2 linked regions of the Homo sapiens genome follow. The protein of the gene in region 2 interacts with the protein of the main gene of each other region in a biochemical or structural test. Each region holds a gene or a part of one and is shown on either strand. Other genes may lie near its edges. The genes, in order: CDSN and KLK7.

Evidence for each region.
Region 1: of the proteins of KLK7 (region 2) and CDSN, one has a biochemical effect on the other in vitro, tested with the Homo sapiens proteins (one study listed by BioGRID).

The regions. Positions count from the first base shown.
Region 1 is NC_000006.12:31,114,418-31,117,566, forward strand, and holds the end of CDSN (corneodesmosin precursor), read right to left. Parts: intron 3,113-3,149; coding exon 1,608-3,112; 3' UTR 670-1,607; downstream 1-669. UniProt on the Homo sapiens protein: Important for the epidermal barrier integrity.
Region 2 is NC_000019.10:50,980,725-50,988,437, forward strand, and holds the start of KLK7 (kallikrein-7 isoform 1 preproprotein), read right to left. Parts: upstream 3,127-7,713; intron 3,092-3,126; exon of another isoform or gene 3,048-3,091; intron 1,734-3,047; coding exon of another isoform or gene 1,676-1,733; coding exon 1,603-1,675; intron 1,191-1,602; coding exon 1,043-1,190; intron 1-1,042. UniProt on the Homo sapiens protein: May catalyze the degradation of intercellular cohesive structures in the cornified layer of the skin in the continuous shedding of cells from the skin surface. Specific for amino acid residues with aromatic side chains in the P1 position.

The sequences.
Region 1 (3,149 bases), on a different chromosome or scaffold from region 2:
TCGTCCGCCTCAGCCTCTCCCTGCCTGTCTCAGGACTTAAGTCGCATGGACCCCACCACACACTCCACTTTCTCTCTCTTCTCCAGTGGAAGCGACTCCTCTTTCCCACTGGGGCACTCTGCCTTCTCAGCCCTCACCTGAGAGCCATGTTGCTCACACTCTCACTCTGGACCCCAGCAGAGCAGGGAGTGTGAAGATGGAGAGACCACCGGCAGCTCTGTTCTGCCACAGGCTGGGCCTCTTGATCTAGGCCAGTGAGTCACCCTGCTTGGCTGCACTCCCTGCCCTGCTCCCATCCTCTCAGTCCTTTACTCTCTCCACCCCCAGCTCCAGGAACAACGCCCAACTGGCCTCCTACTCAGCTGACAGGAATCTGGTTGGAGTTGTTGTGTCCCAGCCTTCCCAAGCTTCCAGGTGTCCCAGAAACCCAGGAAATCGAGACTCATGACTCCCAGAGAGGATGGCATCTAGAAGGTGAGGAATGCTAATGGTGGAAGAAAAGGAGTTTGGGTGGGGAGGGGAGGGGAGGGGAGGGAGAGGAAACACTGAGGGCCCTAAATAAGGGGAAGGGGGACCCCACGGTGAATGAGGAATGGGAAGAGAATGGATTTCCTGGAGCAATGAGAGAGGAGGGAAATGGCGGAAGGATCTGGGAGGCCAGGCAATCTCTGCTTTCAGTTCAACAAATATTTATTGTCTTCCTCCTCTGTGGGAGCAGCTGGAAGGTAGAAGAGAAACACAGCCCGCTTTTGAAGGAAAATGAGGAACACAGAGACCTCTAGAGGCGTAGGAAGAGCACCACCCAGACTCTCAGAGGAGACCCAGGACTCCAAGAAGGCAAAAAGTCTGCACCTAGTCCCCACAGTTTACTGAGCCATCTGTCCAGGATCCAGGGACAGCAGGGAGCCTGCTTCAACCTCTGAGGGTGCCCCAGTGTCTCCCTCACCCAGGGAATCATCTGAGCACTGAGGGAAGTGGCCACAGGAAGGGGCTGAGATAAGGGCCTTGAGAGGCAATGGGTGTGTTGGGGACGGTGATCTAGGAGGGCGTGGTGAGCTCTGTAATGGAGGGTGGGGTGGAATTGGGAGCGAGAGCCCAGTGGCATATTGGGTGGGTTGACTAGATGTCGAAGAAAGGTCAGTGAAAAGTGGCCACTGTTTCCAGATGATGGTTTGACTTTGCTTTATTTGGTAAAGGGGAAGAGGAAGGTATAACTTCTTCAGGCGTCAGAGGTGCTCTGAGAGCATTTCAGGGGTTTCCCAGTTGAGAAGCTGATGGGGGTGTTACTCAATGGACCATTTCCACACAGTAGAGGGAATTGTAAGGGGTGGTGATCTGGCTGAGGGGCACTGTGGTGGAATGGGAATTTAAACAGTAGGAGAGAATCAAGAGAGGAGCTTTGAATCTACCATTTTGAGAAGAGGAAGGAGGAAGGGGTGATAAGAGAGAGTCTGCAACCTTGGGGTAGTGGAGAAAGCAGAACCACTCTTTTGGGAAGGAGGGAAACTGAGCTAACCCTATGCCTGGGCACTGGACTTCTCCCATATGGGATATAGTGTATGTGCTTGTTTGTGCCCAAGGCATGCACACACACAACAGTTGACTTCTTATGGACTGTTGAGTAACTCTCCTTGGGGTAGGAAAACTTCAGGGTCAGCTAGCTGGGGCCCCAGAGGCTTCACTTGGGCTAGGATATCCCGGATGGAGCGGCAGGGGATCTTTCCAGCACTGCTGGAGCCACAGGGCTTGGCACCAGCGGAGGGATCAGGATGGGGAGAGCCATCGGGGCCCCCAGTCAGTGTCAAGGAGGAGACAGACATGCAAGGGTGACCAGAAGAGCTGGACTTGCTGCCACAAGGCTGAAGGATGATTTTGCCACTGGATTGGGAACTGGAGCTGCTGCTGAAGGAGCCGGTGCCTGGTGGGGAGCAGGGGCTCTGGGAAGCACTGCCGCAGGGATGGTAGGGTAAACCGGAGCTGCTGGAAATGCTAGAACTGCTGGGGACTCGAGAACTGGAGGGAGAGCAGGGTCCCTTGGAGCCCGTGGAGCCGCCTCCACAGAGCTGGACCCCACCAGTCCCCACTGGCTGGAATGCAATGGCCGAGGAAGCTGCCGACTGGCTGGGGATGATGGGGTTGCTGGAGAAGTATTTGCCCTCAGAGATGGGGGGCCCAGCTGCAAAGGAAGGGACCCCTGGAGAGCCTTTCACAGGGTTCTCTTTGGTGAAGTAGCCCACAGGGTAGATTTTACCCTTACTGTAGGTCATGCCTGGAACCAGATAACTGTCAGAGGAGCCACCCACCACCTCGTAGCCACCATAGGATTTGTCTACAGAGGTGATTGGGGGACAGGGCTTGCCTGGAAGGCCACCATTGCTACAGGGGGGACCTTGAACCACTCCAGGGGCACCAGAACCGTGCTGGTCCACCACCACCACCACAGGCCTCTGACCCCCTGACACAGAGTGGGAGCTGGGGATGTAGGGGCCGGAGTGCGAGACGATGGGCCCTCCACTGCAGGGAGAGTCGGGGATGTCCGAACTACAGGGACGCTGGTTGGAGCTGACGCTTTGGCCACTGCTGGATACCCCAAAGGTCTGGGAAGAGGAAGAGCTTTGTCCAGGCTGGGAAGGGTTTAGTATTCCGCGGTAAGAGTTGTCATTGGTTGGCAGAGCAGAGCCATTCCCTACTTGGAAGCTGCTGCTGCTGAACTGAAAGCTGCTGCTGCTGCTCGAATGAGAGCTGCTGCTTCCCGAGTGAGAGCCGCTGTTTCCCGAGTGAGAGCTGCTGCTCCCCAGCTGGGAGGAACCGGATGCACCTTGTAGACTAGAGCCAGATCCGGAGGAGTAGCTGACCTGGGAATACCCCGTTCCTGGCTTAAAAGATCCTGCAGAACCACCCTGGGCAATGCTGGATCCGCTGGAGCTACCACTGGAGCCACCACCAGAGCTTCTGGCACTGGAAATGGAGCTGCCAGAACTGCTGGAGCCACTGTAGCTACTGAAACCGCTGGAGTCACCCTTCCCAGTGAGGCAGGGGTCGTTAGGGGAGGTGATACGCGTGGGGTCCTTACAAGGGTCTGAGAAGGTGCCAATGCTCTTAGCCAAGGTCCCTGTGGAGGAAAGCAGTGGTTAGTAAGGGCCAAGGAG
Region 2 (7,713 bases):
GAGGAGGGGGGAGAGAGACACAGAGATAGGAGGGGGGACAGAGACACAGAGAGAGGAGGGGGGAGAGAGACACAGAGAGAGGAGAGGGGACAGAGACCCAGAGAGAGGGGAACAGAGACCCAGAGAGAGAGGGGGACAGAGATCCAGAGAGAGAGGGACAGAGACCCAGAGAGAGAGGGACAGAGACCCAGAGAGAGGGGAACAGAGACCAGAGAGAGAGGGGGACAGAGCCCCAGAGAGAGGAAGACAGAGAGCCAGGGAGAGAGGGGGACAGAGCCCCAGGGAGAGGGGGACAGAGATCCAGAGAGAGAGGAGGGGGAACAGAGACCAGAGAGAGAGGGGAACAGAGACCCAGAGAGAGAGGGACAGAGACCCACAGAGAGAGGAGGGGGAACAGAGACCAGAGAGAGAGGGTGACAGAGACCCAGAGAGAGAGGGTGACAGAGACCCAGAGAGAGAGGGACAGAGACCAGAGAGAGAGGAGGGGGAACAGAGACCAGAGAGAGAGGGGGACAGAGACCCAGAGAGAGAGGGACAGAGACCCAGAAAGAGAGGAGGGGGAACAGAGACCCGGAGAGAGAAGGGGACAGAGACACAGAGGGGAACAGAGATCCAGAGAGAAAGGCAGACAGAGACCCAGAGAGAGGGGGACAGAGCCCCAGGGAGAGGGGGTACAGAGGCCCAGGGAGAGGGGGACAGAGATCCAGAGAGAGAGGGGGACAGAGACCAGAGAGAGAGGGACAGAGACCCAGAGAGAGAGGAGGGGGAACAGAGACCTAGAGAGAATGGGGGACAGAGACACAGAGAGAGGGGAACAGAGATCCAGAGAGAGGGGGACAGAGACCCAGAGAGAGGGAGACAGAGAGCCAGGGAGAGAGGGGGACAGAGCCCCAGGGAGAGGGGGTACAGAGGCCCAGAGAGAGGAGGACAGAGACCCAGAGAGAGGAGAATAGAGCCGTAGGCACAGAAAGACTGCCCTTCCACCCCCATAGCGAGCTGGAGACGCTGGTGCACCTCCAGCAGAGACTTGGGCGGCACCTACTTCATCTTGCAGTGGGCGGCAGTGAGCACCCAGCGCTCATTGACCAGGACGCCTCCGCAGTGGAGCTGATTGCCACTGAGCAGGGCCACCTGCCATGGGTGGGAGCCTCTTGCACATGGGGCGCCATCAATAATCTTGTCACCCTGGGCTGGATGGAGACATGGAGGAGCACGTGGGTAGCTAGCATTAGGGGAAGGCTGAGGCTGCACCTCAGGGATTCCCAGAGTCAGAGATGGACAGAGACAGATGAAAATGTGTGGAGAAATACAGAGAAAGCAAGAGATAGGGATAGAGACAGACAGAAGGAGCCCACTCAGAAACCCAGGAGGCGCATCTCATCTGGGGAACCACAGAGAGACCCTGAGCACAGGAGGCAGGGCCTGGAGGGGACAGAGACCCCCTGAGTCAGCAGAAGCAGGAAGAGCGGGGGCTTCAGCCGACAGTCTGGTCCTCCCAGGATGGAAGCTGTTTGAGGAGGGAAGGGTTCTGACTCAGGGACTCCTTGGAGAGGGTCAGTGGGGGCCCTGAGGTGAGGTCAGACTTCCCAGTCCAGCTTTCACCTTCTTCTCCTGCAGTTTCCAAGGCTAAGGATAGCAGTAAGATCTGCAGGGGCAGGAGAAGGGATCTTGCCATGGTGCCCTGCTGAGCCGCTCAGGGGCTGCCAGGCGAGGAAGGGCCTCTCCTGCTGGAGCTGAGAAGGAGAAAGCATTCAGGCCCAGCCCCTCCCCACTCAGACCCAGGGGTCCAGGCCCCAGCCCCTCCCCCCACAGACCCAGGAGTCCAGGCCCCAGCCCCTCCTCCCTCAGACCCAGGGGTCCAGGCCCCAGCCCCTCCTCCCTCAGACCTAGGGGTCCAGAACCCCAGCCCCTCCTCCCTCAGACCCAGAAATTCCTTTCTCTGGCCTCTCCTTCCTTACACTCAGAAGTCCAGACCCCTAACCTCCTCCTCCCTCATACCCAAGAGTCCAGACCCTAGCACCTTCCTCCCTCAGACCCAGGAGTCCAGGCCCCCAGCCCCTCCTCCCTCAGACCTAGGAGTCCAGGCCCCCAGCTCCTCCTCCCTCAGACCTAGGAGTCCAGGTCCAAGTCCCTCCTCCCTCAGGCTCAGGAGTCCAGGCCCCAACCCCTCCTCCCTCAGACCCAGGAGTCCAGGCCCCCAGCCCCGCCTCCCTCAGACCTAGGAGTCCAGGCCCCCAGCTCCTCCTCCCTCAGACCTAGGAGTCCAGGTCCAAGTCCCTCCTCCCTCAGGCTCAGGAGTCCAGGCCCCAACCCCTCCTCCCTCAGACCCAGGAGTCCAGGCCCCAGCCCCTCCTCCCTCAGACCCAGGAGTCCAGGCCCCCAGCTCCTCCTCCCTCAGACCCAGGAGTCCAGGTCCCAGTCCCTCCTCCCTCAGACCTAGGAGTCCAGGTCTCAGTCCCTCCTCCCTCAGGCCCAGGAGTCCAGGCCCCAGCCCCTCCTCCCTCAGACCCAGGAGTCCAGGCCCCAGCCCCTCCTCCCTCAGACCCAGGAGTCCAGGCCCCAGCCCCTCCTCCCTCAGACCCAGGAGTCCAGGCCCCAGCCCCTCCTCCCTCAGACCCAGGAGTCCAGGCCCCAGCCCCTCCTCCCTCAGACCCAGGAGTCCAGGCCCCAGCTCCTCCTCCCTCAGACCTAGGAGTCCAGGTCCCAGCCCCTCCTCCCTCAGACCCAGGAGTCCAGGCCCCCAGCCCCTCCTCCCTCAGACCCAGGAGTCGAGACCCCCAGCCCCTCCTCCCTCAGACCCAGGAGTCCAGGCCCCCAGGCCCTCCTCCCTCAGACCCAGGAGTCCAGAACCCCAGCCCCTCCTCCCTCAGACCCAAAATTCCTGTTCTTCAGATCCCTAGAGACCCAGGAATCTAGGCTCCGATCTTGCCCTTCCCTGTGGAACCCAAACTTCTGACTCTGTAGTTCGTTTTTCCCTAAAAGGCCCCAAATTGCAGACTTCCAGGCCCTCACTGCTCAGGACCGGGAGTCTAGGCTGCAGCCCCTACCTCTCGAGAGCAGAGTCAGGCTTGGAGCCAGCATCACCCTCTCCCCTACAGGTGCACCCTTGATGAAGCCTCTTCTCACCTCGAGAGGATCTGATGTGATCCAAGTTCCGACTTGGGCTGGCACACAGCTGGGCTCCAAAATCTTCATCCCTCTGCTGGGCCGTCCTCTTATATCACCCCCCGCCCCATGCCCGGCCCCAGCGCCCTGGGGTGCAGGCGGAGCCGACTCTGGGACACCCCCGCCTGCATTTGCGGTTCTGGTTATCTGGAACCCTGACGCAGCGAGAGCAATTGGCACCACTGCACTCTCTCTCCACCCTCCCTCCGAAGGACGGGCGGTGCCCAGCTCCTGCGCCCCCGCACATTCTGGTCCCACAGTCCCTCCTGGCTGCTCTCGGGGGAGGGACCCGGTGCGCTGGGTCTGAGGGGCAGGAGCGGGATTCAAGCAGTCGCTGAGCTCAGAGAATAGGCTCTGGCTCGGGTCCTTCTCTGGGGCGGTTTTCTTTCTTTCTTCCCTCCTCCCTCCCTCCCTTCCTTTCTTTTTTTTGGATGGAGTCTCTCTCTATCGCCAGGCTGGAGTGCGGTGGCGCGATCTCGGCTCACTGCCAGCTCCGCCTCCCAGGTTCAAGTGATTCTCCTGCCTCAGCCTCCCGAGTACCTGGGATTACAGGCACGCACCACCACTCCCAGCTAATTTTTGTATTTTTAGTAGAGACCGGGTTTCACTATGTTGGCCAGAATGGTCTCGATCTCCTGACCTCATGATGTGCCCGCCTCGGCCCCGCAAAGTGCTGGGATTACAGGCGTGAGCCACTGCGCCCGGCTTCTGGGGCCATTTTCTTGCCCTCACCCCCTCTCAGGGGTGGCCTAGACCCTACATCCTAATTCTGGCCCGCCTGGGGGAACTTGTCCAAGCTGATCCCAGTCGTGCCTGTAATTACGCCTGAACCCATTCCCAACTCTAACAGAGAGGTGTAAGTTAAAAACAACGCTTTCCCTAACCCCACCCCACTAATATTTGCCATGTTTAGGATCTATGTTCTTATGGTCATTTTAATCATGTTATACATAGATTTCTTTGTATATTATGTATTTATAACAAAAATGTCTGTACTTAACATTATCTAATAGAACATTTTTGAGGGCTTCATTTATTAATTTATAAGCAAATATTTATTTTTCTTTTTTTAACTTTTCAGTTCGGGGGTACATGTGCAGGATGTGCAGGTTTGTTGCGTAGGTGAACGTGCGCCATGGGGGTTTGTTATACAGATTATTTAATCACCCAGGTATTAAGCCTAGTACCCATTAGTTATTTTTTTCTGATCCTCTCCTTCCTCCCACTCTCCACCCTCTCATAAGCCCCAGTGTGTGTACCCAAAGGAATATAAATCATTCTGTTTAAAGACACATGGACACGTACGTTCATTGTAGAACTATTGACAACAGCAAACACAGGGAATCAACCTAAATGTCCATCAGTGATAGACTGGATTAAGAAAATGTGGTACGTATACACAATTGAATACTACGTAGCCATAAAAAAGAACACGATCATGTCCTTTGTAGGGACGTGAATGGAGCTGGAGGCCATTACCCTTACAAACTAAAGCAGGAACAGAAAACCAGATATGGCATGTTCCTACTTACAAGTGGTAGCTAAATGATGAGACTGCATGGACACATAGAGGAGAGAAGAATCTTTCTTATTTTTTTTTTTTTTTGATGGACTCTGGCTCTGTCACCCAGGCTGGAGTGCAATGGCACGATCTCGGCTCACTGCAACCTCCACTCCCCCGTGTTCAAGTGATTCTCCTGCCTCAGAGTCCTGAGTAGCTGGATTACAGGCGTGCACCACCATGCCCAACTAATTTTTGTATTTTTAGTAGAGATGGGGTTTCACCATGTTGGTCAGGCTGCTCTCCAACTCCTGACCTCAGGTGATCCACCGGCCTCGGCCTCCCAAAGTACTGCGATTATAGGCCTGAGCCACCGCGCCCAGCCAAGGATTTTTGCTAAATGAGTAGATTATAGCTGCTCTTGCCACAGGGGAGGAAAATGGGTAACTATGTGAGATGATGGACATGTTCATTTGTTCAGCTATAGTAATCATTGTCCTATGTATATACATCGCATATGATCATATTGTACACTTTAAATATACACAATAACATTTATTTTTTAAAAAGAGGAAAACTTTTCCCTCTTTGTACATTTAGATTACTTTTCCTTCCTTTATAATGGTTGTGTAATATTCCATACTATACTTGTATCATGATGCATGTCATCTGCCTCAAATTGAAATACACTTGGATAGTTTTAATTATAATAATGCTGAGATGAACTTCTTTGTACATTCATCTTTGTTCATTGTAGTCATTCAAACAGCATCCATTGAGCATCTACTCTGTGCCAGAAACTATTCAGGCTCTTGGAGACACAGCAGTGATAAAACAGAGAAAAATTTCTGTCTTCATAGAGGTTTTTGTTTTGTACTGTCAGGTCAGCACAAAAATAAGCAAATAAAATGTAGAGTTTGTTAGGTGGTTGTAAGCGCTATAAGGGAAAATCCAAGCAAGGAAGAGGGTTGGGGAGTTACTGATTCCCTCTACCCTCGAGGATCCCTGAGGTTATAATATCAGGAAGGTTGGCTGCAAAGACCCCACGTGAAGGTGATATTTGAGCAAAGTCTTGAAGGAGATGGTGGAGGGATCCAGGTGGCTGCTTGAAGGTAGTGAGTTCCAGGCAAAGCGAGCAGGCAGGTGTGTTAGCCAAGGAGCATATCTGAAGTGCCTCAGCAGACAAATCACTGCGACCAATACAGAGTGACCAAAGGAGATGAGGGCAGGTGATGAGGCCAGAAATATAACAGGACTCTGATGACATGCGGTCTGAAAGGTCTTTGGCTTTTATTTTGAGTAAGACAGGAACCATTGTTGGACACACTTCTAAAGTTGGAATTGACCTCAACCTCTAAATTATATCCCCAAAATGGGATTTATTTCTCCACCCTGGACCTAAAACTTATCTCAATCCTGACCCCAACTCAATTCTTTTTTTTGCTTTGTTTTGTTTTGTTTTTGTTTTTGAGATGGAGTTTTGATCTTATTGCCCAGGCTGGAGTGCAGTGGTGCGATCTCAGCTCACTGCAATCTCCGCCTTCCAGGTTCAAGCAATTCTCCTGACTCAGCCTCCCGAGTAGCTGGGATTACAGGCATGTACCATCACACTTGGCTAATTTTTTTTTTTTTTTTTTTTAGTAGAGATGGGGTTTCTCCATGTAGGTCAGGCTGGTCCCTAACTCCCGACCTCAGGTGATCTGCCTTCCTCAGCCTCCCAAAGTGCTGGGATTACATGTGTGAGCCACCACGCCTGGCACCCCAACTCGATTCTACATTTGACCCATAATAGTAGACATTATTGTTGTGTCCCCAGGCATTCACTCCTTCTGCCTTTCTATCAGAGGCTCCATTTTGTTTGGATAATACTTTATCCTCATCAGGACTATAAGCCTCAATGAACCAAGCATTGAAGCCATATTTCGTTTGCTTAATTAGTTGGAAAATGGACATGTGCTGTTCTTCTGGCCAATGAGGAGGAGGGGAAGACCACTGAGGCACTTCTAGGAAAGACTTTCTCATTTTCAAAAAGAGGCACTGAAAGGGGACTTTTTTCTTCTGCTAGATGGTGTCTTTTCTGGATGCAAATTCTGGAACTGTGGCAGCACCCCAGGGACCACAGAGGGAAGTGACCAGAGGACTAAGTCAAAACACTGCAGGTAGCCCACCAGAGAGGTGAGGATCAGCTGGGTCTTTGATGAAGTCACTGAGCTGGTGAATTAACCAACGATGGAGCCTCTTCATGTCATGATTTTTCAGATTCCCCTTCTGGGTTAGAGTTGCTTGGTCCTTGTAGCCAAAATCATCTTTATAAGACCTCAATGTTCAATCAGAATATTGACTCAGATCCCAAATCTGATCCCAAGCCACAAATCCAAATCCGATTCTAACTTGATTCCATATCTTGAAGCCACATAAATCAACAAACTCAACCATGCCTCCAGTCTTAGCTCTCTTCCCAACCCTCATCCCCATATCCCATTTCAGCCCATATCCCATTTTGGCCATTGTTAATGTGAAGATGACCAATTTAATTTTTAGAATAGTCTTTTTTAAAAAAACAAATTAGTAATTTGGATCCTATAGCTGACTACCTCTCATCTAAATTTAATTTTTTCTTAGTTTTTCTTCTATACAGTGGATTTCTTATTTTTTAGGGAAAAGTTGTTGATTGTTTATGCAATAGTTTAACACCAATCCTTTATATATTTAACAAATATGGATTGGGTGGTAGCTATCTACCAATGAGGATACAATGGTGTGCAAACCTAGATAGTGTCTCTTCCCTCAAGGAGCTGATAGTGTCATGTAAAAGAAATACAGTCAATTCATAAACAAGTGTAAAATTACAACTACAAGGCATGCTCTGAAAGACAGGTGCAGGGTATTATGAAGGCACTTCCAGAGGGGTTAGACCCAGGAATTGACTATGAGCTGAGATTTGAAAGAATATTAAACTAGAAGAAATCTTCTAGGAACTAGAAGTAGACTAGAAGAAATCTTCTAGTAACTAGAAATAGTAAACTAGAAGAAAATTTCTTCTGGTA